Homo sapiens: one gene and its partners. The protein of the gene in region 3 interacts with the protein of the main gene of each other region in a biochemical or structural test. Each region holds a gene or a part of one and is shown on either strand. Other genes may lie near its edges. The genes, in order: HTRA3, FRMPD3, ADGRA1 and GIPC2.

The links.
Region 1: the proteins of ADGRA1 (region 3) and HTRA3 interact in a test that uses a peptide from one of them, tested with the Homo sapiens proteins (one large-scale study listed by IntAct).
Region 2: the proteins of ADGRA1 (region 3) and FRMPD3 interact in a test that uses a peptide from one of them, tested with the Homo sapiens proteins (one large-scale study listed by IntAct).
Region 4: the proteins of ADGRA1 (region 3) and GIPC2 interact in a test that uses a peptide from one of them, tested with the Homo sapiens proteins (one large-scale study listed by IntAct).

Annotation. Positions count from the first base shown.
Region 1 is NC_000004.12:8,279,551-8,287,315, reverse strand, and holds part of HTRA3 (serine protease HTRA3 isoform 1 precursor), read right to left. Parts: intron 4,880-7,765; coding exon 4,780-4,879; intron 756-4,779; coding exon 533-755; intron 1-532. UniProt on the Homo sapiens protein: Serine protease that cleaves beta-casein/CSN2 as well as several extracellular matrix (ECM) proteoglycans such as decorin/DCN, biglycan/BGN and fibronectin/FN1.
Region 2 is NC_000023.11:107,558,489-107,566,589, reverse strand, and holds part of FRMPD3 (FERM and PDZ domain-containing protein 3), read right to left. Parts: intron 6,334-8,101; coding exon 6,197-6,333; intron 5,864-6,196; coding exon 5,737-5,863; intron 3,480-5,736; coding exon 3,390-3,479; intron 1,704-3,389; coding exon 1,524-1,703; intron 1-1,523.
Region 3 is NC_000010.11:133,088,423-133,096,523, reverse strand, and holds part of ADGRA1 (adhesion G protein-coupled receptor A1), read right to left. Parts: intron 7,817-8,101; 5' UTR 7,615-7,816; coding exon 7,612-7,614; intron 1-7,611.
Region 4 is NC_000001.11:78,048,966-78,052,465, reverse strand, and holds part of GIPC2 (PDZ domain-containing protein GIPC2), read right to left. Parts: intron 1-3,500.

The DNA of each region.
Region 1 (7,765 bases), on a different chromosome or scaffold from region 3:
GCGCCTGGCTGAGAGCAGGCCTTCCAGAAACAGCCGGTGGAGGAAGAAGAGGATTCTGGGGGCCTCAGTGCAGGCCTCTTCTGGGTCAGCTGGTGGGAGGTACAGACGTGAAGGTGGAGGGATGGGGTCCCTGTCCCAAGTGTTCCCCACGGCAGCCCCCTGGCCTCCACGCCCAAACCCAGATGCCATCCCATGGGGCAGGTGCATCCCCAGTAGTGGGCCCAGGTAAGACAGTGAAGAGCCTCCGTGGGGTGTGATATGGGACCACAGCCCACCCACTGTGGGCCACATGCTTCCTGGCTCTGCCCTGCACCTAGCGGCTCAGGGAGCGCAGGACAAGGAGTCCAAAGACCTGGGTTCTAGGTCTTTTCCAAGCCGTGACCCTGGGCCAGCTGCCAGTCCTCCCTGGGCCCAGTTTCCTCCCCCTGGCTGATGGAAGGTGGGGCTAGCTTGCCTCTGGGTTCCGGCGTCTGGGAAGAGGCCACCATGCCCAGCCCCAGGTGCTTCCGCCCCTCCACCCACGCCCACCCACCTTGGGATGGATCTTGATGGTGGCAATGTCCGACTTCTTGTCGATGTCTTTGATGGTGGCCTCATAGGAGTCCCCATTCTGTAGCTGCACCTTGAGCTGCTGCCTGCCCGGGGCAGCACTGTTGCTGGACACCACGTGGGCATTGGTGATGATCAGGCCGGCCTCTGACATGATGAAGCCAGAACCGCTGGACAGGGGCACGTTGCGGCCAAACAGCGGGTGTCTGCAGCCAGGGAGACACAGGCGGGCATTTAGGGTGGGGCTAGGACGCGGGGGAGTCAGGCGCAGTGGTGGGGCTGGTCAGCGAGGAGCAGAGCCAGTGTGTGGCTGACAGAACACAGGTCTGGAGTCCCTCAAGCTCCCATTTGAATCCTGGCCCTGTGACCTGGCCAAGTCACCGGCGCCTGCACCCATTCACAGCCATAAAGAGGTGATGATGATCACCTCTCGCTGCAATTTGCTGAGATGAGACAGGCTGCCTGCGACATGTCAGATGACTCCCAGCTTGCACTCGCCATCCTGACTACGGAGCACGGAGCCAGACAGACCAGGATGCTAATCCCAAGTCCAGGACCCACTTATTATCTGCCTGACCGTGGGCAGGTCAGTGAAGCTCTCTGAGCCTTGGTCTCCCCATTTGGGAAATGGGACAACAACACCTCCTCCGCCGAGTGGTGATGCCTGGGCTCTAAAACGCCTCTCAACAAACAGGACAATAATTGGCCCTAGGGGAAAAGCCCCATTGCACACACAGCATCCTGCAGGGCTGCAGCAGGTACCCAGGAAGGGAGGCTCCCCAGAGGCTGGGGCAGATTCCTGATCATCCCGACAGGGTGAGTGCTGGGAGGGCTGAGAAGGCTTATTCCCACCTCCCTCTACCCTCACCCCCAGGCTAGCTGCCTAAAGCCCCAAATGTGGCAGTGCTGGCAGCAGGCAGATGCAGGACCCGAGCCCTGGACACCCCGAGGGCAGGGGTGCAGAGGCACAGATGAGGCCAGCCTGGGCCCTGCCCTCTGTGAACGGTGTGGAGCTGGCCTGGGTTTGCATTGGTGTCTGCCGATGGGCAACAATCCCCAGTTCTCACCAGAGCTCTCTGAGTAGAAACCACAGCCCCACATCCAGCAGGGGAGGAGGCTGAATGCCAGACACAGCCTGGGACCTTCTCCAGGGTGGGAACCTTCGGGACCCCAGCGTGGGGCCCAGCCCAGAGCAGGTACTCACTCCCTGAGGCTGCTTAGTAGAGATGAGCAAGGAAAATGTGCGAGGGACAAAGTATGGAGGGATGGAAACGTCTGGCACGTGCAGGCAGGTGAGAGCAAGAGACAAAGCATGGAGGGATGGGAGCGTCTGGCACGTGCAGGGAGGTGACAGTCTCTGCAAAGTACAGGAGCTTCGCTGTGACCCACAGGACCAGAGATGGCAGCGAATGCCACCCTGTGCTCCCTCTGAGGCAGGCAGGCCATTGAATGCTCATGGGCACCCTGCAAGGGGGGTGCTGTGGTGAGCTGTATCCCTGCCAAGAGATACGGCCAAGTCCTAACCCCATGTGACTGTGAATGTGACTTTATTTGGAAACAGGGTCTTTGCAGGTGTCCTGAAGTTACGGTGACATCAGAGTGTGTCTGTGTTGTCTTTAAGGGAGGGAAGTCCAGTCTCACAGAGGGGAAGGCCATGAGATGATGGAGACAGAGCAGAGAGAGGGGTCTAAGGGCCGAGGCGTACCAAGGACTGCGGAAAACACTAGAGCCAGTAGAGGGGCCTGGGACACTCCCCCAACATCCCCCAGAAGAAAGCAGCCCTGCTTGATTAGGACCTTGACACCTTGATTAGGACTTCCAGCCTCCAGAACCATGGGAGCAAACATCTCTGTCATTTTAAGCCATGCAGTCTGTGGTACTTTGTTATGGCAGCCACAAGAAACTACTGTCGTCCCTAACTCTCAGGTCTTTATGGTGGGAAAACTGAGTCCCGAGACGCTGAACTACTTGCCTAGGTCAGGCGGGCAGGCAAAGGGCAAAGCAGGGGTCTGCCCCAGGCAGCCTGGGCATCTGGCCACTTGGCCACCCCACACGGTGACCCCAGCATCTGTCCACTCACATCCGCAGCCAGCTTCTGCCACACCCACTCCGTGTGTGCCCCAGAGTAGGAACTGCACCTGTTTTGCCTGCGGAAGCCCCAGGGTGCCTCACAGGGCCAGGCACCTGCGGGGTCTGCAGAAAATGCCCGCGGCTGCCCACTGGCCTCCATGCCCACACTCAGACCTCAGGTCAGGGGTCACAGCCGGGAGGCCTGTGCTGGAAAAGCATCTGTCTCATCTTTGCTGGGTCTCACCCACCCACTCAGAGCATCAGTCACTGGAGGCTCTGAGGGCAGAAACGGCCTCCCAGCCGGGCTGGAGTCAGTAATTAGTTGGTTCAGAGCCTGGTGGCTGGGGCCTTCCAGAAAGATGCTGCCCCCATCCCTACCTCCTGGAAGGCCAGCAACGTGCCACTTAGTGCATCCAGTTATAATTTCCTCAATGACATGTCTCAGGGCCCGGGGCTCGAGGGAAGGGCAGTGAGGGGTCAGTGTGCTGCCAAGGGGGCAGTGAGAGGTCCATCAGCACGGGGCACCGGACAGGGTGGCAACCAGGGCTGTGGGTCCTGCATGGGTGGTGCCTCCAGGGCTGTTTTGAGAAACATGGGCTACACAGCCCACAGCCCAGGGAGCTCCCAGCAGGTGTGGAGGATGTGATGCTGAGGTGCTATATGCCCGTCACGCGCTCTCACACCCCTGTTCAAGGAGCACGACCTCTGCTGGAGAGCCCGGGATGGGGAGGGCAGAGGGGCCGTGACGCCTAGTGACAGGGGCTTGGACCAGACAAGCGCCGAGCCAGCCAGCAGGGAGGCGGTGCTGGAGCAGGAATCACTCCTGGGATCTCCCCATGAGCCACCAGATGCTCAGTCCCCAGGGCCGGGCCTAGGGCAGTGGAGCCTCGTCACAGGGAGGCTGGAGGCCTCAGGGAAAGTACCGTGAAAACAAGCAAGTCCCTGGAGCCCTGGCCTGCGGCCTCTGGTGACTGCTCATTGCCGGCTCCGTGTCCGCCTGGACCCGCCGTCTGATCCCTATCAGGGTGGAATGAGGCTTGGTTCCGGGGCCTCCTCATCAGGCTGTTTGCCGGCTCTGTGCACACCCAGGGACCAAAGGGCCAGCAAAGGTGGATGGGAGAAACACTCTAAACTTCAGAAGAGTCATTCAGTCTGCTTCTGCGGGATATAAGTCAATCTGGGATGAGCCCTCAGGATTCGGTGTGAGCGATCAGACATTGGGCAGCTTGCACAGCGGGAGGTTCTGAAGGCAGGGCTCCCCCAAACCAGCTCAGAGGGTCTCTGTGATGGGGGAAGTAGGAGAGGCTGGGGATGGTGGCAGGGACCGGGGCAGGCCCTGTGGGAAGAAGGGGAGGAGGCTTTGCCTGTGCATCTGCAAGGAGAGGCCTTGCTCGGGGGTGAAGCCACACGGTACACACCACTTCCTCTACGGGGCTGGGACATCCCGCTTCCCTATTGACCGACTCCACTCATTCATTCATTCTTTTACTCATCCATTGGACACTCACTCATTCCCTCCCTCACTCATTCATTCTGCCACTTCCTTCACTAACTCATTCCTCCCCTCACTCATCCATGCACTGATTCGTGCGTTCACTCACCCATCCCTCATTCCTCCCCGCTCCGGCCACACGGGCCTCGGTGCTTGCGAGCTGCCCCCACTGCCCTGCATCCACTGGCCCAGCTCCCGGGGTGCCTACTTCAGGCTTAGCTTGTGAGGCCTCCCGAGCCCCCGGTTCCCACTGCCCCGAGCCCTGCTCTCTGCCTGCCATGCCTCTGCTCCTTGCACACACACCTGCTGTCTCCTGGCATCTCCTCCGCTGGGTTCTGTCTGTGTCTGCTTTACTGCACGGCCCCTCAGGACGACCAACACATTGCATGTATCCAATAGCATGGGCAGCAGCATGAAGGGACAAAGACCCACAGCTGTGCACCTTCTTGGTGCCTACAGCTCCAGCAGGTGCGGAGTCACTTCAGCGGGGATGTCCTTCCCCAGGGGCACACAGGCAGCCAGCAGATGTGACTGAGGTCAGCCTGACCCCAGGCCACTCCAGTTTCTGTGGCCCAGGCTGCAGAATCAAGCCTGGTTTGGGCCCCAGCAGCTGGCGGGTGTACCAGGGGACACCAGGAGGCAGAGAGGGGCGAGGGGTATTCACCCACCTCAGGAAGAGCTCTATGTGGACCACGGCTGGTGCGATCTTCTCCACCACGTCAGCAATGAAGTTGAACTTGTAGCGCGGGCTGCTCAGCTGGTGGAGACCTGCGCTGGCGGGAAGGGCCAGGTGCATCAGTGAGATCACGATGCTGCCAGCTCCCAGAGGCCTATGCCCAGTGGGCAGAAGGAGGAGGCTCTTCCTGAGACCCCTGTCCCAGTTCAGAGCCAGCCTCAGCCCACACTGAGCCCGTTGGGGACCCCCTACCACACAGCAGTGCAGTGACACCAGGCATTTGGGAAGGGGCTCGCTCACCCCGAGAATGGTTAAAAAGGCTTCCACGTGCTGGGCTTCCTCACCCCCCTCACTGGACCCTGCTAGGCTGGGCAGGAGGCTCAGAGAGAGGTTAGGATATTGCCGTGAGCCACACGGGAGTGAGGCCAGGGCTGGATCTCGGGTTAGTCCCCCTGGGCCTTGTCTGTTCCCTCATGCTACAGCAATACCCTTACAGGAGAGAACTGGCCCTCTCCTCATGGGCTCCAGCTGGTCCCTCCGAGCCCTGGGGCTACAGCAGTGTCCAGGCGGGGGTGTAGTGGAAGACCCCCAGGTGACCCTTCTGAGCTACCCAGGCCCGGACACAGTGTGGCCCCTCTGGGCCAAAAGAGCTGCCAATTTCTGAGTCCACAGGGCCCTACATCTGTGTCTAACTTGGCCACACCCCAGCCCGACTTGCTAGATGGTTCACGAACTTCCCTGGACCCTTCCCGGGCTCAGATTCCTGCTGCCGTCAGCAGTAGGGGCTGTGGCTGCCAGGACCACAGGCCTGAGGCATGCAGTGGCACGGGGCCCACAGCCCTCGGGGTTCCCTGCACGGGCCTGTGCCGGGCTCTCTCCAGTTCCCACCATCTGGAACACATGCTGCTCAGCCTCGCTCGTGGCTCCCGAGCCCCGCAATGAGCAACTGGGCTGGGGGCTGCACACACCAGGGGTTCGGCTGGGCCTGGCTGCTTTCTAGCTGTGTGGCCTCAGACAGATTACTTACGTTCTCTGGGCCTCAACTCCTCATCTGAAAAATGGGACTGAATATGCCCTCCTACCACATCTGTGGGAACTGAGTGTGGAGGACTGCAAACTTCGAGTCCCTGCCCGGGGGGCTACCCACCCACCCAGCCACCTTGGCAATGGGGAGCAAAGAGGGCTCAGTCCATAACGTCCAGCTTTCCAGCTTTGCAGCCCACATTTCTCTTGATCTCTGGGAAGTGGCCGGGCATGGGGACCGAGGGAAAATCTGGTTTTCTGGATCGTCCAAAGGCACGAAGGTACCATGGTGGATGCCACTGTGGGGGCAGGGCCCGGGCCGCGGTCCGTGCTCTAGGAATCATCACAGGGCAAACACAATCCCCAGGCACATCCCAATTCATTCACCCAACTCTCCAGGGGCAGCCAGGGGAAGGAAACTTTTCCTCTATTTTAAAGGTGGGGACACTGAGGCTCTGTAAGAAGAACCCCCCTGCCCAAGGACTCACGGCTGGGAGGGGAGAACCAGGATCTGAACGCAGGCCGCAGGCCTCCTTTCCCTGGGTGCCCCCACCTCTGCCCTGCAGCTCCCCAAGGCCCTGAAGAGCCCTTTAGCCTGAGCTGGGACCTAGGGGGTTGGCTCGAGCTCTGGTGTTGGGTCTCCCAGACTTCCGATGTCTGCCTCTCAACCGGCCCGCAGGCACCAACCACACCAGCCCTCGTCCACTTCAGTCAGCCTGAATCAAAGGCCACCTGTCTGGGGTGGCTAGAGCCTGGCTGGGAGACGCCGGCCACCGCGAGGCTCCTCATAGATCAAACCACTGCGGCAGAGCGGGGTCTCAGGTTCAGAGGTCACATTAACAAACACCCCAGGGGCAGGGCCTGCTGTGGGCCCAGGGCTCTCTCTGCCCACGTTTGCTTCCATGAGGGATGCGCTGCCCTGCTCGACACCTACAAAGCAGGCGGCTCCCTTGGTGAGGTGAAGCTGCCGTGCGGCCCGAGTGGGCAGCCCAGGCCTGTCTGCTTCTCCTCCCTGCCCCTGGGAACTTGAGTTCATTTTCTAGCACCCAAGTAGAGAGGAAGGACACCAGCCACAAAGCCTGCTTCCCTGGTGAGGTTTGGAGCTGGTTCAGAGCTCTCACAAGATGCGCTCAGACCCACAATTTCCACGACCCAGAGGGATCCCAGGGCAACCCCCAGGCCCAGGCCCTCCTCCCTCCAGGAGGGAGGACTCAGCCGGTCTGCTGCTCCCCTGTGTGCCCTGGGGCCTGAGGCTGGCGCCCCATGTGCCTCGCCTGAGGAGAAGCGCCAGGGCACGGGCACAGCCCCCAGGTGGGACCATATTACCTCTCCTACCGTGTGGCCTTTGTCGGGCCACCAACTCCAGTTTCTGCTCATCATCCACCTCTCTACACCTCCCCCTGCACGACCTCTCTCTACTCTCCCTACCAAGATGCTCTGGTTGGTCCTGGGCCCGGCCCTAATCCTGCCTCCTCCAGGCAGCCCCGCAGCAGCCCCAGTTGTACCGAATCTGCCGCTGCTCACAGCCTTATTCAAGCCACTCGTGCAGGGTGCCTCCTGTGTGCCCACCTGTGACAGCTGCTGGAGACACAGTGGTTCAGCTGGGGGCAAGGGTCAAGTCAGTGACCGACCAGAGACAGCACAGCATCACCAGGGATGAGGCAGAGAGGAGCCCGGCGTGGGGTGGGTGAGTGCAGAGGTGCCCTGACCCAGGCCTGGAAGAGCCCACGGGCAGGGGCACAGCACATGGAAAGCCACAGGCTGAGCCCGCATTGCCTGTGCAGGCAGCCACGGCACACAGGGACCTGGGCCCAGTGTGAACACAGCAGAAGGAGGAATGGCAGCACCTCTCCTCCCACAGGTGATTAGAAAAGGCTGCCTTCCTGTGTGTCTCCATCCTGGACTCAGACACTCCAACACCCAGGGCCGGAAAGCTCTCTGGACCCCAACGTGTC
Region 2 (8,101 bases), on a different chromosome or scaffold from region 3:
TTGGAAAGCTGTGTCTCTATTTTAAACCCCTTTTATTTCTCAGGAAGCCACATCTCCCCTGCATGCCTTGTCTTCCCTGCCCCCTTCTCTGCCCGTCCATTTGGCTTTTTACCCAACAACATCTGAGGAGTGCAGCAACCATTGGTTGAGGAGGTAGCCGCAAGCCAATTAAACATCGGCTCCAAGCCAGTTCCTAAACCAATGGGAATCCTGTGAATCACAGGTGGAAAAATCAACACATTAAAGCTTTCTGGGTTTCACAAAGACAAAAATAAAGCAAATAATTTTCTCTTTTAGAAACAGCAAACACTCCACCTCTTAATCTGCTACCAATATCTCCCCCTGGGAAATCGTTTAAGAAAGGAAAGTTGCAACTCCTCTAAGAGCTTCCGCCAGCTGGCAGGCAGGCCTGCCCCCCACCCACAGTGGTCACTGGTATTCAAACAGGAGAGCTGTGGAGGGGGTGGCTGACCAAGACTGCCAGACTTTGCACAGGCGACAGCTGCTTGCCAGTCCGAAGGAGTTGATCTATGGGAATGAATCTAAGGTTCTGGAAGGGCTGGACTCTGGGAGGTGAAATAAGGACAAGGCTCTGCATGTTCCCCTTCTTCCCAGGCCCCCTCTGTTCTGTTCACATGCTCAGACACCCTCTCTTCAATGACTCAAGGTGCGTGTCCCTATGGCAGGGCCCCCCAACTGCTGTGCACATGGAATGGGTGAAGATGGGCCAAGATATTCATTCCTATAGTTTCTGGGGCAGCCAGGCAGAACCTGGGGTGGACAGAGTCTCTGGGGCTGCTACATTTACCCCAGTGTTCCACATGAATATAATTTTTTTTTCTTTTTTCTTTTCTTTCTTTATTATTACTTTTTATTTATTTTATTTTTTTTTTTTGAGACAGGGTTTCACTCTGTTGCCCAGGCTGGAGTGTAGTGGTGCAATCACAGCTCACTGCAGCCTTGACCTCTCTGGCCCAGGCAGTCCTCCCACCTCAGTCCCCTGAGTAGCTGGGACCACAGGTGTGTGCTACCATGCCCAGCTAAGTTTTGTAATTTTTTGTAGAGACAGGGTTTCACCATGTTGCCCAGGCTGGTCTCAAACCCCTTGGACTCAAGTTATCTGCCCACCTTGGCCTCCCAAAGCATGAGATTACAGGCATGAGCCACCATGCCGGCCTGTGAATATAATTTTCTGTGTGCTATGATATGAGAAAAATGGGAAGCAGTGGTCTGGGGGTAGCTCCAAGTTCTCCAGTTTCCCTGCCCTGTGCTGAAGAACTGTCTCAGGCTGATCTGACTCTCCATAGCATTCCTTAGTGCTGGCTGACCTTATTATGTGGTCAAAATGGCATGTCCCAGAGGGCTGAGAAGAGACATATTAGCCCAAAGAGTCCCAGGGTTGAACCACTTCAGAATTACTGAACCTCACCTAACAGATTCCAATTCTCTTTCTCAAGTTTACTTCTTCCTCTATTCCCAAGGCCTGTTCCTAAACAGAAGGAGGCCCTCAAAGCAGGGCTTACCTTGGCATCCATGATGCTGGTCTCCACCCGGGCCACGCCCTGGTTCTCCCGGAACAGCTGGATCTTGCTGATCTTGCTGAACTCGGACAGCACAGTGGTGAGGTTGGTTTTGAGGTCAATAACATGGCTGATGCCATGACGGGGTCCCACCAGGAGCGTGGTGGCCGACTGCTTCTCATCCTGGTGCCCAAGAATGGCAGGCAACGTTCACAGAAGGAAGGGTGGAGGAGGTGGGGAGAGGAGGCAGGAGGAGGAAATAGAAAACATGCATTGGACTCTCTGGTGGGGTCTGAAAATATCTGGGGCTCAGTGCCACAGTAGGACAACCTGGAGGGGAAAATGGTCTGGGACAGAAAATGGTTCCTGGGATAGAGCCCCAGATTATGGGTCCAAATGAACACCTTAGCCTCAGCAGCAGGTTGAGTAAAGTGCACAGGCAGAAGGGCTAGCTCAAGCAAAACCGTGAAGTAGGTGAGGTTTGTTTGGGGGCCTTTGGAGCACCCTCCCCTTCCAAGCCCCAGGGGCTTTCCATTTGTTGCTGCAGGCCATTTGAGGCCCCCACCCAGTGCTCTGCCTGAGAAGGCGGCATCCTGTGTCTGGTCTTTACCCTCCCCCCACCAACAGCCACTCAAACTTGCACTTCTCACCCAGGCCAAAAACTAAACTGGCACAGTAACTCTGCCTAAGGTGTTGAGGGTTGATTGGGTACTTCATGGCAGCCTCCCTCGTTAAGCAGAGATTTGCCTTTTAATGGGCACTCCAGCAGGTATGGCCAATAGAAATTTTAGCAGTGGTAGGTGGGTGGAAGAAAGATTTGACAGTGTATGAAGGAGGTGGGAGGGGACAGTGGGCTTTCAGTGTTCTGCAAATCCCAGTATGTAAATGGCTACCTCTCGGCCTGAAGGACTGGATTCCCTTAAGAGGTCTTGACAGATTCCTTGGAGCAATCAAGCTTGGGTCGTCTGGAGGCCCATTCCCTGGTATTAGCATCACCCTGAGGAACCTCTTGTGCCTGTCTATAGGCACTTTGATAAGTGGCTTTCCACCGATGTGCCGCACTAGCTGACAATGTGCTCCTGGGAGCAAGACAAGCACCTGGATCCAATTAGCAAGGTGATTTGAATTTCCTTTCACCAGGGTAAACTAGCCTGGGGCACAGTCTTAGGGTGGGACCAGCTGTGCCCTGCCCCAGAGCCTTGTTCCTGCAGCAAAGGTGCTGAGCAAGCAGGGGGAGAAGTAGAAGGACTCAGGAAACCTAGGGTAGGGGACTGTGGGAGTATGTGGAACAAAAATGAAATAGAGCAGGGGTTGCCTAACCATGGCCCATGGGCCAAATACCACCCACCACCTATTTTTTATGGCCCAGGAGCTAAGAATGGTTTTTAGATTTTTTAATGGTAGGGAAAAAAAATCAGAAGAGGCATGTTTTGTGACATGTGAAAAGTACATGAAATTCAAATTTTCGTATCCATAAATAATTATTGGTAAACAGCCACACCCATTTGTTTATGCATTGTCTGTGGCTGCTTTCATAATCTGACAGCAGGGCTGAGTAGTTGCCACAGTTGCCAGTATGGCCCGCCTGCAAAACCTAAAATATTTACTATCTGGCCCTTTATGGAAAAAGTATGCTGCGCCCCCAAATCGAGGAAGAGGAACAAAAAAAGGTCATGGAGGGATACTCAAAACAAATATCTCCTCCCACTTTATCATTTTGGCAGAGGCAGGGCCAGGGAGGTAAGAGGTAGAAGGAGGAGGAAGAGGAACGAAGGCCTTTAGAAATATTTGCCCCTCCTGCCCCCACACCCAAGGACAAGAGCCAACAAGGGGCTCCCTCCCCACATCCCCCAATCCTGCGCCACTGACCAGGCCTACAGTGTTGAACAAAACGCCCGTGAAGGTAGGAAGTTCATTCAGAATTCGTAGATACTGGAGCTTTGCCTGAATTGCAGAGCCCTGTGGAAAAACCCATCCAGAAATATGAGAAGCCTGAGGGGCACAGGAAAAGCAAACCCATGTTCTCAACGAGGAGTCTCAACATCCTAGGACAGGCACCAGTCAGCAAGTGACACTGTGGAGATGTGAAGATGCCCTTCTTAAAACAGCAGCAAGGTTCTAGTTTGGACAGCTCTTCCCTCTAGTATCTCATCTCCCTTTCTAAAATCTTGTCCTACCTCCTGATCTTCATTCCTAAAGTATCCAGCTTACTCATTTTGTTTTTGGTTTAATTCCAACTAACTGACGCCCCACCTAATCCATACCTCTCTCCTGAGATGTTTCAGACCCCTAGAGTCATGTACATGCTGGTCATTCCCCAGCTGGGGGTCCCACTCAATACCGTTCATACTAAGCATTCCTAAGTCCCAAGCCTGCACTTCAGGCATTCCTGGTCTATATCAGCATCCCCTGGGCAATCAAGCCAGAAACCTGTGAGTCACACTGGACTCCTCCTTAATCGCCTCATGTGAGAGCCAGCAGTTACCAGATCATCTGGATACTTACCCCCTAGCTCCTTTTCCAATCTATCCATCCCTCTTCTCTAGCCAGTCATTGCCTTGACATTCCCACCTGTGTCAGGGTGACAGCCAGGTTACCTTCAGGACTGACACTTGTTTCCCTCTTTCCCTCAAGTGCCTCCACACTGTTAGAGGGAGCATCCTAAAACATAAGTTTAATCACATCAGCTCCCTGCTTTAAACCCTTCAATGGCTCCCAGCTGCCTAGAGGATGAAGTACAACCTCTTTCCTTGGCACACAAGGCCCTCCATGAACTGGCTCCTGCCAACCTCTCTGGCCTCTTCTCTTGCCCCTATCTTCACCCCTTGCACACAGCTTGCATTTTCTGTACTTGCTTAGGCTGAATGATTTGCATTTCTGTCCTTGCACCATGGTTTCTCATATCTCTGGGCCTTTGTACAGATGGATCTCTCTGCCTGGGAAACACTTCCTCCCATGACCCATGCCCACGGATTAATCTAGACAAACTCTTATCTGTCTTTCAAGACCCAGCTCTGGCCTTTTCCACCTCCCTCAGGCTGGGCTTAGTGTTCTTCCTCTGTGCTTCCAGAGCACCTGTGCCTAATGCACTGTGTTGGGACTGACTAATGTGTTTCCCCATTAGACTGTGCCTGACTCAGGGGCCAAGACCAGGCCCTCTTCATCTTCATATTTCCAACCCAAGCACTGGGGTGCCTCGAAAAAAATGTTACCTGAGGAGATGGTGGTGAGCACTGATGCTCTCAGTTGAGAAGAAAACAATCTGATTAAATATTCACAGCAAGGTGGGAATGGCTTAACTCTCCGGGGAAATTTGCATCTTAAAAGAGAAGCTAGTTGGTAATGCAAGAAATCTGGAATGGGAGGAATGTATGGGGCGATTGCGTCCCATATGTACATCTGCATGCTGATTCTAGTGCGTCTCACCACTCTCCTGCTTCTAGGGCAGGAAGCACAGGCAGATTGAATCTTACAAAGCTAAGAAGCTGCTGCGGGGCTTGGGAAAGCAGACAGTGGGAGTCCCTCAGAGCACTAGAAAGTGGAGGCAGTAACCTGATCCCTCACCATTCCACCCAGTGACCCATTCTCCAGGTCAGGTCTTGTGCCCCCAACTCTCCCACTTTCCCCTGGGCTGGGGTTTTGTCTCCCAGAATTCCACACCCTAGGACTGATGAATTAGAGGTACAGAGGTACATTTCCTTTTTTTACATTTTTTTTAAATTATTTTTTTAAAAGTAAAGACGCTGTCTCACTATGTTGCCCAGACTGGTCTCAAACTCCTGGGCTCAAGTGATCTTCCTGCTTTGGCCTCCCAAAGCGCTGGGATTACAGGCATGAGCCACCACACCAGCCTAGTCATTTCCATGGAAAACATGTGCCTCCCTAGGGTCCAGTGCTTTCCACATGATACATGCTCAGTCGGCACTGACTAATTGGTGAAAAGGACCTGAGAATTATCTCCTGCATCTTGGCCCCTTTGCTTTGAGGACCCTGAGCTCTCTCAGTGATGTGTCACTCAGCTGTCTCTTTGGGATGCTCAGGCTTGGGGAAGACTCCTCTCCACAACTGCCCCACACCTGGCCAAGCCGTATGTGCACCTGAGTCAAAAGCAGTGGTGAGGATCCCTAGAGGACCAGACTCTGCTGGGAAACCACCCAGGATCTCCCTGTGGCCAGTAGTGCCTGGAGCACCATGCCCAGTGGTCTACTCTGGATACCTTGGTGCCGCAGGAAGGATGTGTTTGGTGAGCCTTCAGTTGCTGAGAGAGAGATTTCCGGAGGTTCTTCTCTTTGATGACCTGCAGGAGGGAGGGGGGAAGAAAGGGTTCCAGGCCCCACTCCTTCCTAAAAGCAGAAGAAAAGTAAGAGATTAGTGAGAGAGGCAAAGTGGGACAGAGAGAAGATGGTAAGACAGAAATTGACTGAATCTGAGAGGTAGAGATGGAGGAATAGAGACTGGGAGAAAGAAAAAGGGACAGGGATAGGAAAATAACATTAGCCACAGCTCCCTAGTAGAAGCTGTAGCTCTAGGGCTTCATAGTCTAGATATGAGGGACTCCAATTCTCACTCCCATCCCATGTCCTACATTTCTGAAAAGCATAGCATAGCTCAACCAGTGTACCTTTTCCCTACGCAACTATTCGCCCCCCATCCCAACGGGCCGCAGCACAACTCACTCCACATTCTTGAGCGAGATCTTCTGACTAGGTCGAGTGGCTGAGACAGTGATATAGATGTGGAGCGCAGCAAGGCCCAAAAGCATCTCTGGCTTGGGATCCATTCCAAAGCGTTCTCGAATAACATCATTCCGACTCTGTGAGAGAGGGCAGTCCAAACCTATCAGCTGAAGGAGACATTCCTTCCCCACCCCCTGATCTACTCCCTTACATCCCAGACAATACTCATAGTATCAGTAAGGCATGCTAGATCAAGGGACAGAGGAAGGAGCTCCCCTTGGAGAAGAGACAACAGAGGAGGCTCAGGTCTCATAGACACTGTTCACTTTATTCAGCAGATACTAGATAGCCTTCTCAGTGACAGGGGCACACAATGGCAAGGTACAAGCAGACAGTCCAGTTCACTGCAAAAGTGAGACATGGCACCACTCCCTTTCTTTCCTCCTTTTATAAGAGACTTTCCTACTTTTTTTCATGGGGGTTATACTCACCCCCAAGCCATACAAGGCTCCTTTACTAGCTCAGATGGAAACAAGGGGAGAAAGATACTGGGAGGGACTCTCCACAGGGCCCTGGCCCAGAAGCCCAGGGTGAGAGCTGAATTGCAGGGATGGGGGAGGCATTCTTCTTCTTGGTGTCTGAAGGACAAAAATGTTGATGAGTCAATCTTCCCTATGCTATCCTAGAGGAGGTCTCCAGGAACTACTGGCCAAGGGTATGACAACCCCCAAACCCTGAGGGTCACAGCCCCAGCTATCAATGAGTCAGCCTTGGTTAGACCAGTTTCCCATTTTGTTAAAGTGGAACCAGTATGGACTAAGGGACTAGGAAGCCACAGTGATATCACTATAATATAGGAGAGAGTGGAAAAGGAATACATCATCAATGATCATCTATGTAGAAAATTCAGTGGATTCTATTACAAAAAACTACTACAACTACAGTTTTCCCTTGGTATCCATGGAGGATTTCTTCCAGGACCCCCATGGATACTGAAATTTGTGGATGCTTAAGTCCTTTATATAAAATGCTGTGGTATTTGCATGTAACCTATGCAAATCCTCCTGTATACCTCTATCACCTCTAGATTACTTATAATGCCTAATACAATTAAAATGCTATATAAGGCCAGGTGCAATGGCTCATGCCTGTAATCACAGCACTTTGGGAGGCGGAGACTGGTGGATTACCTGAGATCAGGAGTTCAAGACCAGCCTGGACAACATGGTGAAACCCCGTCTCTACTAAAAATACAAAAATTAGCTGGGCATGGTGGCGGGCGCCTGTAATCCCAGCTACTTGAGAGGCTGAGGCAGGAGAATCACTTGAACTCAGGAGGTGGAGGTTCCAATGAGCCGAGAGCGAAACTCCATCTCAAAAAAAAAAAAAAATTGCTATAGTGCTATGTAGGCCAGATGCTGTGGCTCATGCCTAAAGTCACAGCACTTTGGGAGGTTGAGGCAGGTGAATCACTTGAGGTCAGGAGTTTGAGACCAGCCTGGCCAACATGGTGAAACCCTGTCTCTATTAAGAAATACAAAAATTAGCTGGGCGTGGTGGTGCATGTCTATAGTCCCAGCTACTTGGGAAGCTGAGGCAGGAGAATTGTTTGAACCTGGGAGGTGGAGGTTGCAGTGAGCCGAGATCATGGCACTGCACTCTAGCCTGGGTGACAGAGCGAGACTCTGTCTCAAACTAAACTAAAATAAAAATGCTATGCAAATAGTTATTATATTATATTTTTAAATTTTGTATTTTTTATTATTGCACTGTTATTTTTTATTGTTTTTGAATATTTTCAAAATCCACAAATATGGAACCTGTAGATATGAAGGGCCAAATGTAGTGAGTTTACCAAGGTTTCAGGATATAAGATCAATACACAAAAATCAATTGTATTTCTAT
Region 3 (8,101 bases):
TTGTCAACATCTTCCGGGAGGATTCTGTACGAGCTTCTGCGAGAGGTGGAGAAAGAGTGGAGACTGTTCGGCACCAACAGACCTGGACCGGAGGCCGCAAACTCCACCTGCTTCTCGGCCCAAGAAAAGGGTTCAGGGTCAGAGTTCAAAGGGGAATGTGTGTTCTCTGTGGCAGAGTAGACTGGGGGAAAATCGACCCAGCTGGAAAGGCTTGGAGCTGATGGAGCTTCATCTTTTCTTCATCAGGTGAGTGAGGTGAGCTCACCGGGGAAGCACAGAGGGGTGCACAGGCTGGGGAGGGGGCTTCAGGGGCATCAGCCCAGAAACATGCGTGCACAGGCCCAGGAGGGGGCCTCGGGGCACCAGCCTGCACTCAGCTCTGTCTCAGGCTTCCAGCCTCCAGACTGTGGGAAACATGTCTGTGCTTCAGGGCCCCACTGTGTAGGGTTTAGTTATGAACCTCAGGCAGGCGAGCAGGGTGGGTGCCATGTTCCGGTAAGAACCCTGTGGGTGGGTGCCAGCAGGGGTGAGGGCTGCAGCCGCCTGGCCCCTCCCCAGCCCCCTGGTGATCGCTGCACCTGTGCCAGGCTCCAGCCACTCTGACCACGCCATGGATGCTGCCCTGGGCATCGGGGCAGGAGGAGGCAGCCGGCCGGGCCTCTGGGATGGCTCCGGCTGAGTGAGGCGGGAAGTGGAGAGGGACCCTCCTGTGCAGGAAGGGCCATGGGCAGAGGCAGTGTCACCTGTGTCGGGATGCAGGCAGCCAGCGGGCCCGAGAGCTCCTGCTTCCCTCCTGAGGCCACACTTCTTGTCCGTCCAGCCAAGACGAGGCCCTGGCTGGCTAGAGAGTGTCCACCGTGGACAGAGGGTGCTCTGGGGAGCCAAGGGACTGGCTGACAGTCAAAGCCCGAAATAGGGCCCCTGCCCCAGGGTTCGAACAGCACTGGCCAGGCGGGCACCGGAGGGGCCCTGCATCCCGGGACGAGGAGCCTGGACCTGTGCGAGGGCGAAGGCACCTGGGAGAGGAGCGGGCGTCGCTGTGGGGCCGCAGAGCTGGAGTGACAGCAGACACTTTGCTTTCCGGGGAGTGTTTAGAATCTGCCCATTTCTTCCTGGACACCAGGACCCCACAGAGAGACAGCGCCCTGTGGTTCAGGCTTGGCTCTGAGGCCCACCCTGGACAGAGGCCCCTGAGGGTTTTCGGGGGAGTCAGGGCCCAGGAGAGCCCCACCCTCACTCTGCCCCTCTGTAAAGAGGTGAGCTGGGTGGGCCTCTGTCCAGATTCTCCTGAGTGCCCCAGAGCCCGAAGCGTCAGTTGCCTCCTGCAACAGTCGTGGGGTGAGTGTCCGGTCCGAGCTCCAGCTGGGGCTCCTGCTTCCCCCAGAGATCAGCCCAGGGACAGCCCGGCCAACTGTGGACATTCGCACGTCCCTCCTTGGTGTTCTGGCTACTGGAGTGCTTGCCATCAGGAGACGATGCATGGGGGCTCTGGCGTGGCTCGGGCGGTGCCAGGCTGGTTGTCCCACGTTTGCTGGTTTAGTAGGCGCCCACTTCCTGCCACGTGCAAACAGCTCCAAAGTCACAGAAAAGCATGTTTTCCCGGCCAAATCCCGACATCAGGTTATCCAGTGAGTTATCTGCTGCTGGGAGGTGGAGAATGCCCCATGTGGGTAGAAGAACTGAAGTTTTAACAGGGCGTGAGCGACGCCCCAGATTCTTGTCCCCAGGATTCTTCCACGAGAGTCAATGGCTTTTCCTCCAAGACATTGACCCAGGGTCTAAAATAAACCTGAACGCTCTACACAGTTCCGACGAGCCATTGTTGCAAACCCAGATCCGCGAGAGAAGCCAAGAGAGTGGGGTCCACTCTGTGTCCAGCCCTCTCCGAGTCTATCGGAGCATTTCCTCAGTGAGTCGCCTGGAACAAGGACTTCGTTCTCATCTGTTGTGTTGAAGAGCCTGGGGTGGTCTGCCCCGGGCCCTCACGCGTCCTCTCACGGCCTCCCTGGGGCTGCTGTGGCCGCCGCGCCTTCCTGCAGGACTCAGACTCCTGCTCAGCTACGGGGGCGAGGGGCGGTGCCACTGTGGGCGGAGGCGCAGATGGCAGCCAGGAAAGTGTGTGCCCTGATGTCTGGTGCCTGCGAGCCGCGTCCTGTCCCGCTGCCTCCATCCTCAGGGCCAGAAGGAGACTTAGCCTCCCGTTTGTGGCTTTTAGTCACAAACACAAACCCCTTCATGTTAAGCCCAATCAGAGCTGCTTTTCATGCAAGAGGCAAACGTCTCAGGGCGCGAGTGCAAGGTGCAGGCTGCGCTGGGAGGAGGCCGCCCAAGCTCCAGTGACAGCGAGGGCCACGCCGCCTTGTGTGGGGCTTCTCGTCTGAAGGCCAAGCTGTGAGGTTTCACACGGACTGAGGCGGCAAGGGCAGGCGTGGACGCCTGGAGCTGCCGCGTGAGCTGGAGGCCTGGGCCATGGTCCTCACCTGTGCAATGATCCGTGTGTCAACAAGATGTTTTATAAGAAACAGATGTGTGATTTGGTTTGGTTTCTTTTCTTTTTCTTGTCTCCAAATTACAGTTATCAACAGTGCCTGTCTACATTTTCAGAGGTGACATTTAAAACTCAAAGTGGGTCATGTGCAGTGGAGACGTGTGTTGTCTTTTAAAGTTTGCACATGCACCGATTCTTCTTTGCAAGTGTTCCCCAGGCCTGCTGGTCTGATCTGTGGCTGAACAGAGCCTGGCTGACAGGGGTGAGCCAGCAAGTCAGAAGCAGAGTTCCTGGACCCTCGGCTCGCAATGCAGCCAGGCTCCTGGGGGGTGAAGAACACGGTTCCGAGGACCCAAGGGGGCTGGGAAGGGGCGGATGAAGGTGGCCCCGACCTTCTTGGCCCAGATGAAATGGCCGGAATGCCAGCTTGGTTCTGTGCCCGCAGGATGGCCCAGGTTGCTCTAGAAGGCACCCAGAGATGTCTCTGCTTCCCTGGGGAAGGCGGGCATCCATCTCCCATCTGCCGGCCTCGGAGCCAACAGTCCCGCCAGCGTGTGAGCCCGGCGTGCGTGGGACTCGTGCTCTGGCTTATTTGTGTCTCCTCTTTCTTTAGTCATAACTTCCTCCTCTGTTTTCCCTCATTTTAATTGGAGGTCTCCTCTTTGGTGTGTTCTGCAAATCAAGTGGGTCAGGGTGTTAAAGACAAAAACAAAGGAGGAAAGATGAGAAGGAAGCAGTCGGTCAAGTTATGTGTGAATTTTCTGATCAAAACTTAACCTTTCTGCAGCAGTGAGAGGTGGGAAAGTGACCTCTTCAAACCTGGGGAATGCCAGCTGCCTGAAGGAATCTTCCTCCCTGCGGGTGAGGTGTCCGGGGCCAGGTCTGCAGCTCCGACTGGCTGAGGAACCTTCTTTCCTGCACAGTGAGGTGTCCGGGGCTAGGTCTGCAGCTCCAACTGGCTGAGGAACCTTCTTTCCTACACAGTGAGGTGTCCGGGGCCAGGTCTGCAGCTCCGACTGGCTGAGGAACCTTCTTTCCTGCACGGTGAGGTGTCCGGGGCCAGGTCTGCAGCTCCAACTGGCTGAGGAAGGAACACATATCCTCCCAGGTGCTTCCAGTCCTCCTTCTCCTTCTTCCAGGTTCAGGCTCCCTTCATTTCCTTCCTTCCTTCCTTCCTTCCTTCCTTCCTTCCTTCCCTCCCTCCCTCTCTTCCTTCCTTCCCTCCCTTCCCTCCCTCTCTTCCTTCCTTCCTTCCTTCCTTCCTTCCTTCCTTCCTTCCTTCCTCCCTCCCTATTTCTCCTTCTTCATTCAGGTGCTTCTTCCTGGTTCTTCCTGTTTCTCTTTCTTGTTTTTTCTGGTTCTCCCTGTTTTACTTCCTGGTTCTGTGCCAATGAACACTGATTTCCTGAGAGCCTGATGTATTCCCTTGTCTGCCTTTTAAATAATAATTGCATCTACTGATCTGTCAACTTTTCATGGATGTGTTCCAGGGGAAAGGTGGAAGGTAGAGGAGAAGAATTTATTCCTCCAGAACACAGATGACCCATAGTCGGCATTACGTTTGTAAGGTGCGTTATGATTTTCTTCTTGGAGGAGTAGATGGGCTAGTGAAGTTTTGAAGAGATTTGGGAAAAAAGTGTTAAAATATCATAGACGCTTTCTTTCTAGACTGGTAGTTACTTGCTTAAAGTTCTTAATTTTCGGGAAGATGTGAGGTGGGATGACAAACTCTCCATCTGTGAGATGAAGGAAGTAGACTGTAGCCATTTTTAGTAATTTAGATATTAGACTAAAAAACAACTAGCTGAAAAGAACTCAGTATAGCTCTGAAATGTTCGTACGCGCGACCGACCATCCTTACGCCCTGTGAGAGGCCCTGCGTCCCGGGCCCCTCCCACCTCCTGAATGCCCATTCCTGGCAGAGGCCAAGGGGTAAAATTTGAGCAGAGATAAACCCACCTCATGTGGGCTCACGTACTTCCTAACAACTCAGAGCTCCGAGTCTCCCACAACCTGCCTTTGGGCCAGGACCCGATCCTGGTTCTCTTCAGGGCGGACTTCACATGGGTCCGGCCTCGGGGAGCAGCTGCAGGCTCCTCCTCACTCTCGGCCTCCGAGACTCCCCTTCCTGGGGGCACCGCCAGGAGGCTGGCCTTGACCTTGGGCCTGTCACCCTCCGGTTGGAGGTCTTCACCCTTTGGCTACCCGCCTCGTCTCCTTGGAGGTTTCGAAGGCACTCTGTCCTTTCAGAAGCTGGGGAAGGAAGTGTTAGACCCAAGGAGCTCCCTACACACACCAGGTCTCTGGGGTCCCCCAGCCCAAGCTTGTCCTCGCACTCAATCCCGGCATTGAGAACATGCAGGGTGCAGCAAACAGCGCCTCTGATGACCAAGAGTCAGCCCTGAATTGAGAGCTGGAAGGGGCTCGGTTGAGTCCCCTTTGAGAGCCTCCACCCTACTCACAGAAAGCTGGCAGCTCACAGATGACCACATAGAAACACAGATGCTAACCAGGCAATGGTGCCATCGGCACAGGGCCTGAACCCTGAAGGGACGATGAGCTCATGCTCCCAGCTGCACCTAAATATTGCAATTGTGGAATGAAAGTAGCCACAGAGGGCCAGACGACATCTTCACACCACACCATATCCCACAGCAACCACACTGCACCAGCCACACCGCCCATCCCACGGCAACCACACTGCACCAGCCACACCGCCCATCCCACGGCAACCACACTGCACCAGCCACACCATCCAACCCTGCAGGTGTTTCCCCATAGGTGCCACACCCAGCGCAGCCCCAGGCCTCCCAGTTGGCAGGATCTGTGGCTTTTCAGCCTCAAATTCAGGCCCTCGAGAACAACTGTTCTCTGAGTTAAGTGTGAGGACTGCAAGTTACAGGGTGCGAAGTGACACCTATTTCATTTCGGAGCCTGCTGGAACGTAAGTCCTGATAGCACCCCTTGCGGAGACAGGCAAGTTCACATTTGCTTTTGCTCGTTAACAGTGGTGACGGAGACACAGCTTGCAGAAGGAGGTGCCCCAGCTTTAACCACTGGACAGGTGGCCTGCAGGTCCTCCAGAGGGGAGCAAACTGTCCATCCTGTAGAGCACCATGGGCCGACAAACCAGCCTTTTGAGAGGACGGCCTGGCCCAGCCAAGCTGCTGGACAGCAGCTCAGAATCCAGGGCTGACTCATGCCTTTGTGCCTGGCCAGGAGCGATGCCACCAAAGAATCTGACCTGTGACCTGTGCCCTATGCCCTTACACTTGGGAGCTCAGCAGGCAGCTTGCCCCTGGCAGGCGTCAGGAGCCCCCCAGAGCACAGCAGTGGGGCAGGCAGAGTCAGGGCCACCCTGCCCTGGCCACGGCCTCCAGGCTTCCTTCTCAAGACCCCATGGCCATGGGGTGAGCCTGCCCAGGTATCTACGCTGTGAACTTGGAGACACGTGCTGTGAATTACGCTGTCACACTACGCTGTGAACTTGGAGACACATGCAGAAAAATGCTGCACCAGACTGATGCAGCACGGGAGGGCAACTCCTCACACTTTCAGAGATTTTCTCAGGTGCAAATGTTACTTGTTGTGAATAAAAACAGTGAGCTGCTGAAATGCCACACTCTCCAGGCAGATCGAGCTCAGCAGGCTTTCACAGTCTTGGGTGAGCAGGAGCTCTGGGCTGCCAGGCCGGCTGGGACCGGGTGGCCCCGGGCCGAGGAGGTGGTAGCAGGAAGCTCCACCAGGAGCCAGGAGCTGAGAGGAGAGTGCACGAACAGGCTCAGCCTGCGAGGGGTGGTGCCCTTCTTGGATTGGGGAGGCCCCCGCACAGTTGTTCGCAGAAGGGCCAAGGGTTAGAGAGGAGGAGGCGAGGAAGGGGATGAGAGGGACCCCCGGGCTGCGGCAGCACCCCCACCTTCAGAAGCCCTTCTCCGTTCACTGTCCTCTGTCAATGACAGTTTTCCATTTTGCAAATAAGGGTCTCAATTTGAGGCTGAAAAGCCACAGATCCTGCCAACTGGGAGGCCTGGGGCTGCGCTGGGTGTGGTACCTGCGGGGCAACAGCGATGGTTCCTGAGGCTGGTGGGAGCCTGGGGGCAGGCAGGAGCCCTGGGGCTGGCCTGCTGCCCCCTGAGGTGCTGCTGGTGCTGGAGACGCAACCTTGTCAGGTGTCTGAAAGGTAAGTGCGGAGACCTCAGCCAGCCTCAGAGGTGAAGCAGCCACTGGAAGACGATACTGAATGTTGGCAAAGGCATCTCTCTTGCTTGGACATTTCGAACGGAACAAGAAGAAAATGAGCAAGTGACTCAGACCGATGGCTCCTTATGCAGCGAACACTGGGTCTGCTCCGAAGCACGCCAGCCGGCGTCTGTGGCGGCCGCACATTCTAGAGGCCATTGGCATTCTCTGCACGTGCCCTGGGTCCTCACCGCCTGTCAGCTGTCCCTTACCAGCACACACAATGCATTGTTCACTCAGCTGTCAGCCCTTCCGGAACCCAGACATTCAGCAACTGCAGCAAAAGCTTGCTGGTGCCTCAGGGAGGGACCCACGATGGGCTCGGCTAGCCGATCCAGCCAGCTGCCAGCCACGAGCCCCTTCCCGCTGAAACACCCTTCCCGTGCCTGCCGTGTGCGCGGCCGCCTTCTCTCCGCCACAGCCTCCACTGCTGAAGCCCACCTACGTCTGTCCGCACTGCCTTTCATCAACTTTCTAATGGGAAGGGGCCGGCAGGGTGGCGTGGAGGAGGCCGGTGACCAGGGTGGAGGGGCTTGGGGTGGCAGGGACCCCAGCCCAGGCACAGACCAGGTTTTCACAGGGCACGGATGCCAGCTTTGCGGGAGGGACGTCGCCTCCATTGATTAAATGATTCCACATTGCCATATGCCTGCAACTCATTAGTATGATCAGCACCCAGCACGCGGGGAGCAGAGGTGCCCAGACACGCGGCCTGTCCCCGGCCCCCACTCCACAGAGCCTCCCACCCCGGCACTGAGCCCGGAAGCCCGGTCACCAGCTCGCCATTCCACAACTTTTCCAGCCTGGGAGTCCCCATACGGGTGGCCGCCCCCCCGCAGCGGCCTAGCCCCCAGCTGCAGGACCCCCGGGACCCCCGTACTCACCATGAGCGCTGCAAAGTTGCGGAAGCGTGAGCGCCGCTGGAGGAGGCGTCCAGGGGGAGGCGATCAGGTGGCGCCCTGCTCCCCGCCAGCCTCCATGGCCTCTGGAAGGTCAAAGTCCCAGACGGCGGCCAGGAGGTCGCGCTCCCGGGCCCCTGGCCTCAGGGTGACCGCGGCGGGGCGGGCGCAGTCCGGGAGCTGCTCCCATCTGTGAAGACAGCGGCGGTCAGCGGGGCGGGCGGAGGGTCCCCGCGGAGGGCAGCTCGCAGCCCCGACCCCGCCAGGGAGCAGCCGCGGCCCCTGTCGCTCCCTCCCCTCCGCGGGCGGCCTGGGGGCTGCGCCTGGGGCTGGCGGAGGCGGTGCCGGTGGGGACCGGTGGGGGGCTCGGACCGAACGCGCCAGCGGCAGATGCGTCTCCTTCTCCATATTTAAAAATCAATCTGCGCCCCACTCCCGGCTCCGGAGCCAAACTCAACCATCTCGGGCTGCACAA
Region 4 (3,500 bases), on a different chromosome or scaffold from region 3:
TAACTACTGAATTGGTGAGGATCCTTTTATTCAACAACTATTTTTTAAACTCCAACTATAATATGTTTCAGGCAAAGTCTAGGCCCTTGAGGGCCACATCAGTAAACAAAGACAAAAATCCTTGCCTTTGTGGAGCTTCTATTGGGGCAAGGGGGCAGACCATAAACAAAATAAGTTAAATATACATAGGATAGTATGCTACGGAGAAAAATTAAGCAGAGAAGGGAACAGGGAGTGTTGCACCTAGAGATGATCAGTGCTAGCCTCACCAAGAAGATGACATTTGAACAGACTTAAGGAAGGGCATTCTGTAGGAAGAGGTTCTGGCGGAGGCAAAAACCAATGCAAAAGTCTTAAGGCTCCAGCATTCAAGGAGACCAGTCTGGCTGGAGCAGAAGGAACAACGATTCTGAAGAGGTAACAGAGCCCGTAGCCCATCATAGTATTTTGGTTTGTTCCAAGTGAGAGGGGAAGCCATGAAAGGTTTAGAGCAGAAAATGAGATACAAATTGTATCTCAGAGACAGCAACTTTTGAAGAGTTTTGCTAAAAAGGAGAAATGAGGTGGTAATACAGGGGATGGGAACAGGTGTCAAAAGAAGGTTTGTCTGTTTAAGAGAAATAACAGCATGCTTGTGAGGATAAAATCTCACCTTAAAAATCACAATTCTACGCCAGGTGCGGTGGCTCATGCCTGTAATCCTAGCACTTTGGGAGGCCGAGGCAGGCAGATCACCTGAGGTCAGGAGTTCAAGACAGGCCAACATGGCAAAACCCCGTCTCTACTAAAAATACAAAAATTAGCTGGGCATGGTGGCATGCACCTGTAGTCCCAGCTACTCAGGAGGCTGAGGCAGGAGAATCACTTGAACCCGGGAGGCAGAGGTTGCAGTGAGCCGAGATCACACCACTGCACTCCAGCCTGGCAACAGAGTGAGACTCCATTTCAAAAAAAAAAGAATAACACTTCTTGCCTTTTCTGCTTCTCAAGTACTCTGCTTTCTTTGACTGCTTTATGTATGGGGAGAGAATAAGTCACTGAATTACTCATTTATTATTCAATGAACTATTTGGTATCTAATATCACACGCAAACTAATCTAAACAAGTAAAAGGAAGTAATTTCTGAATTCTGCAGAGAAACTGCATCTGAATTTCCAGTTTCTGGACATGTAAAATTTCTAACTATAAAATTTATCTTTTTTTTGTTAATAATATTTCTTTGTTATTCTTTTAATGTCCAAGGATCAATAATGATGACATCATTTCTTTTTTTTTTTACATTTTACAAAATGAATGTATTGAGCAAAGTGGGGTTCTTTTTTTTATTATACGTCTTTTCTTAAGTTTTCACATTCATTATTTTTTCCTACAATATTTCCACATAATAGAGAATTAGGAAAATATATCATGGTAAAAACTACTTGCCAAACAATTACAGTAGTCAAATATTCAAAATGCCCCTTCAACAAAATGTATGACCATAGCTCGAGAGTTTCATGTAACCTGGATATTTTAAAAGATGGTATGTATTGGCCGGACACGGTGGCTCACGCCTGTAATCTCAGCACTTTGGGAGGCTGAGGCGGGCAGATCACAAGGTCAGGAGATCGAGACAATCCTGGCTAACACAGTGAAACCCTGCCTCTACTAAAAATACAAAAAATTAGCCGGGCATGGTGGCAGGCACCTGTAGTCCTAGCTACTCAGGAGGTTGAGGCAGGACAATGGCATGAACCCAGGAGGCGGAGCTTGTAGTGAGCTGAGATAGCACCACTGCACTCCAGCCTGGGCGACAGAGCGAGACTCCCGTCACAAAAAAAAGAAAAAAAAAAAAAGATGGTATGTATTAAACTTTCTCAAGAAGAGTCTTTGCATTTATGTAGGAGTTAATTGTTCTTTAGATGAGATTAATTTACAGGGTTTTTTTTCTTTTTACTGAATTGTTCATTTAATTGTTTTGAAAAAAGGCATCAGATATGAGGGATTTTTGCATAACTGGCCATCTGTCTCAACTTAATAACAAATCTTAACTGATTCACAGCCTTCATTAGCTTATTCCTTCAGGGACCACAAAACACTAGCTGAAGTCCACAACTGTCAGTCTCACATCAACATCTTTTTGAGGCAATAAATATTTTTGTGGTTAAGTCTGAGGCTTTTATTGAAAAAAAAAATTTGTTTACAAAAGACGTTTTTCCAGGTTAGTGTTTAGAATTTGAATGCAGCTACCAAGAATCTCACAGCTGCTATGTAATAGACTTGGAACCGGCCAGGTGCAGTAGCTCACGTCGGTAATCCCAGCTCACTTTGGGAGGCCGAGGTGGGCGGATCACCTGAGGTCAGGAGTTTGAGACCAGCCTGGCCAACATGGTGAAACCCCATCTCTACAAAAACACAAAAATTATCCAGGCATGATGGCGTGTGCCTGTAATCCCAGCTATTCAGGAGGCTGAGGCAGGAGGATCACTTGAACACAGAAGGCGGAGGTTGCAGTGAGCCACGATCACACCGTTGCACTTCAACCTGGGCGACAGAGCTAGACTCCATCTCAAAAAAAAAAAAAAAAAAAAAGAGGTTTTTCTGGGTTCGTATTTGGAATTTGAATGCAGCTACCAAGAATCTCACAGCTGCTATGTAATAGACTTAGAACCAGGAAACCAGAATTCAAATCCTGGCTCAGCCACATACCAGCCTATTTAACTTCTCAGAGTCTCACTTCACTAAATTGTAAAATGAAAAGATTCTGGTGAGGATGGAGTGAACACACTGTAGGCTTACAGGCCTAGCACAGCTGTGGGCACATTATGGGCCCTGATTATCTGCTCCACTTGACATCAAGTCTTTTCCCTTTCTCCTCAATAAAGAGTGGCTAGCTCTTCATGTAGTGCTATTTATATCCTTACAGCCACCACTCTAGAAAAAAGGCAGGACTTCTGAGTTAACTATCTATTCAATCCCATTAAGGGGGGCAAATGTTTTTGTCCCCACTGACATCTCAAAAGTTATTTACATCACAGGGCTGGGCGTGGTGGTTCACGCACTTTGGGAGGCCGAGGCGGGCAGATCACCTGAGGTCAGGATATCAATTCAAGACCAGCCTGGCCAACATGGTGAAACCCCGTCTCTACTAAAAACACAAAAATTAGCCAGGCATGGTGGTGCATAATCCCAGCTATTAGGCAAGCTGAGGCAGGACAATCACTTGAACCCAGGAGGTGGAGGTTTCAGTCAGCCAAGATCGTGCCACTGCACTCCAGCCTGGGCGACAGAACAAGACACCATCTCAAAAAACAAAAACCAACCAAAAAAAGTTGTTTACATCATTATTGCTGAGGTAATTGCTTGCTGGGGAAATGGGCTATGAAAATGGAATCTCCTTGGTGTGCATTTCATTTTAGTGAGTTACTTCTGTTTCAGAGTGAACCACTGAAATATTATGCGTACTATGCTATGATGACCAATACTTTATTCTGCATATAATTAACTTTTTCTAATCCAG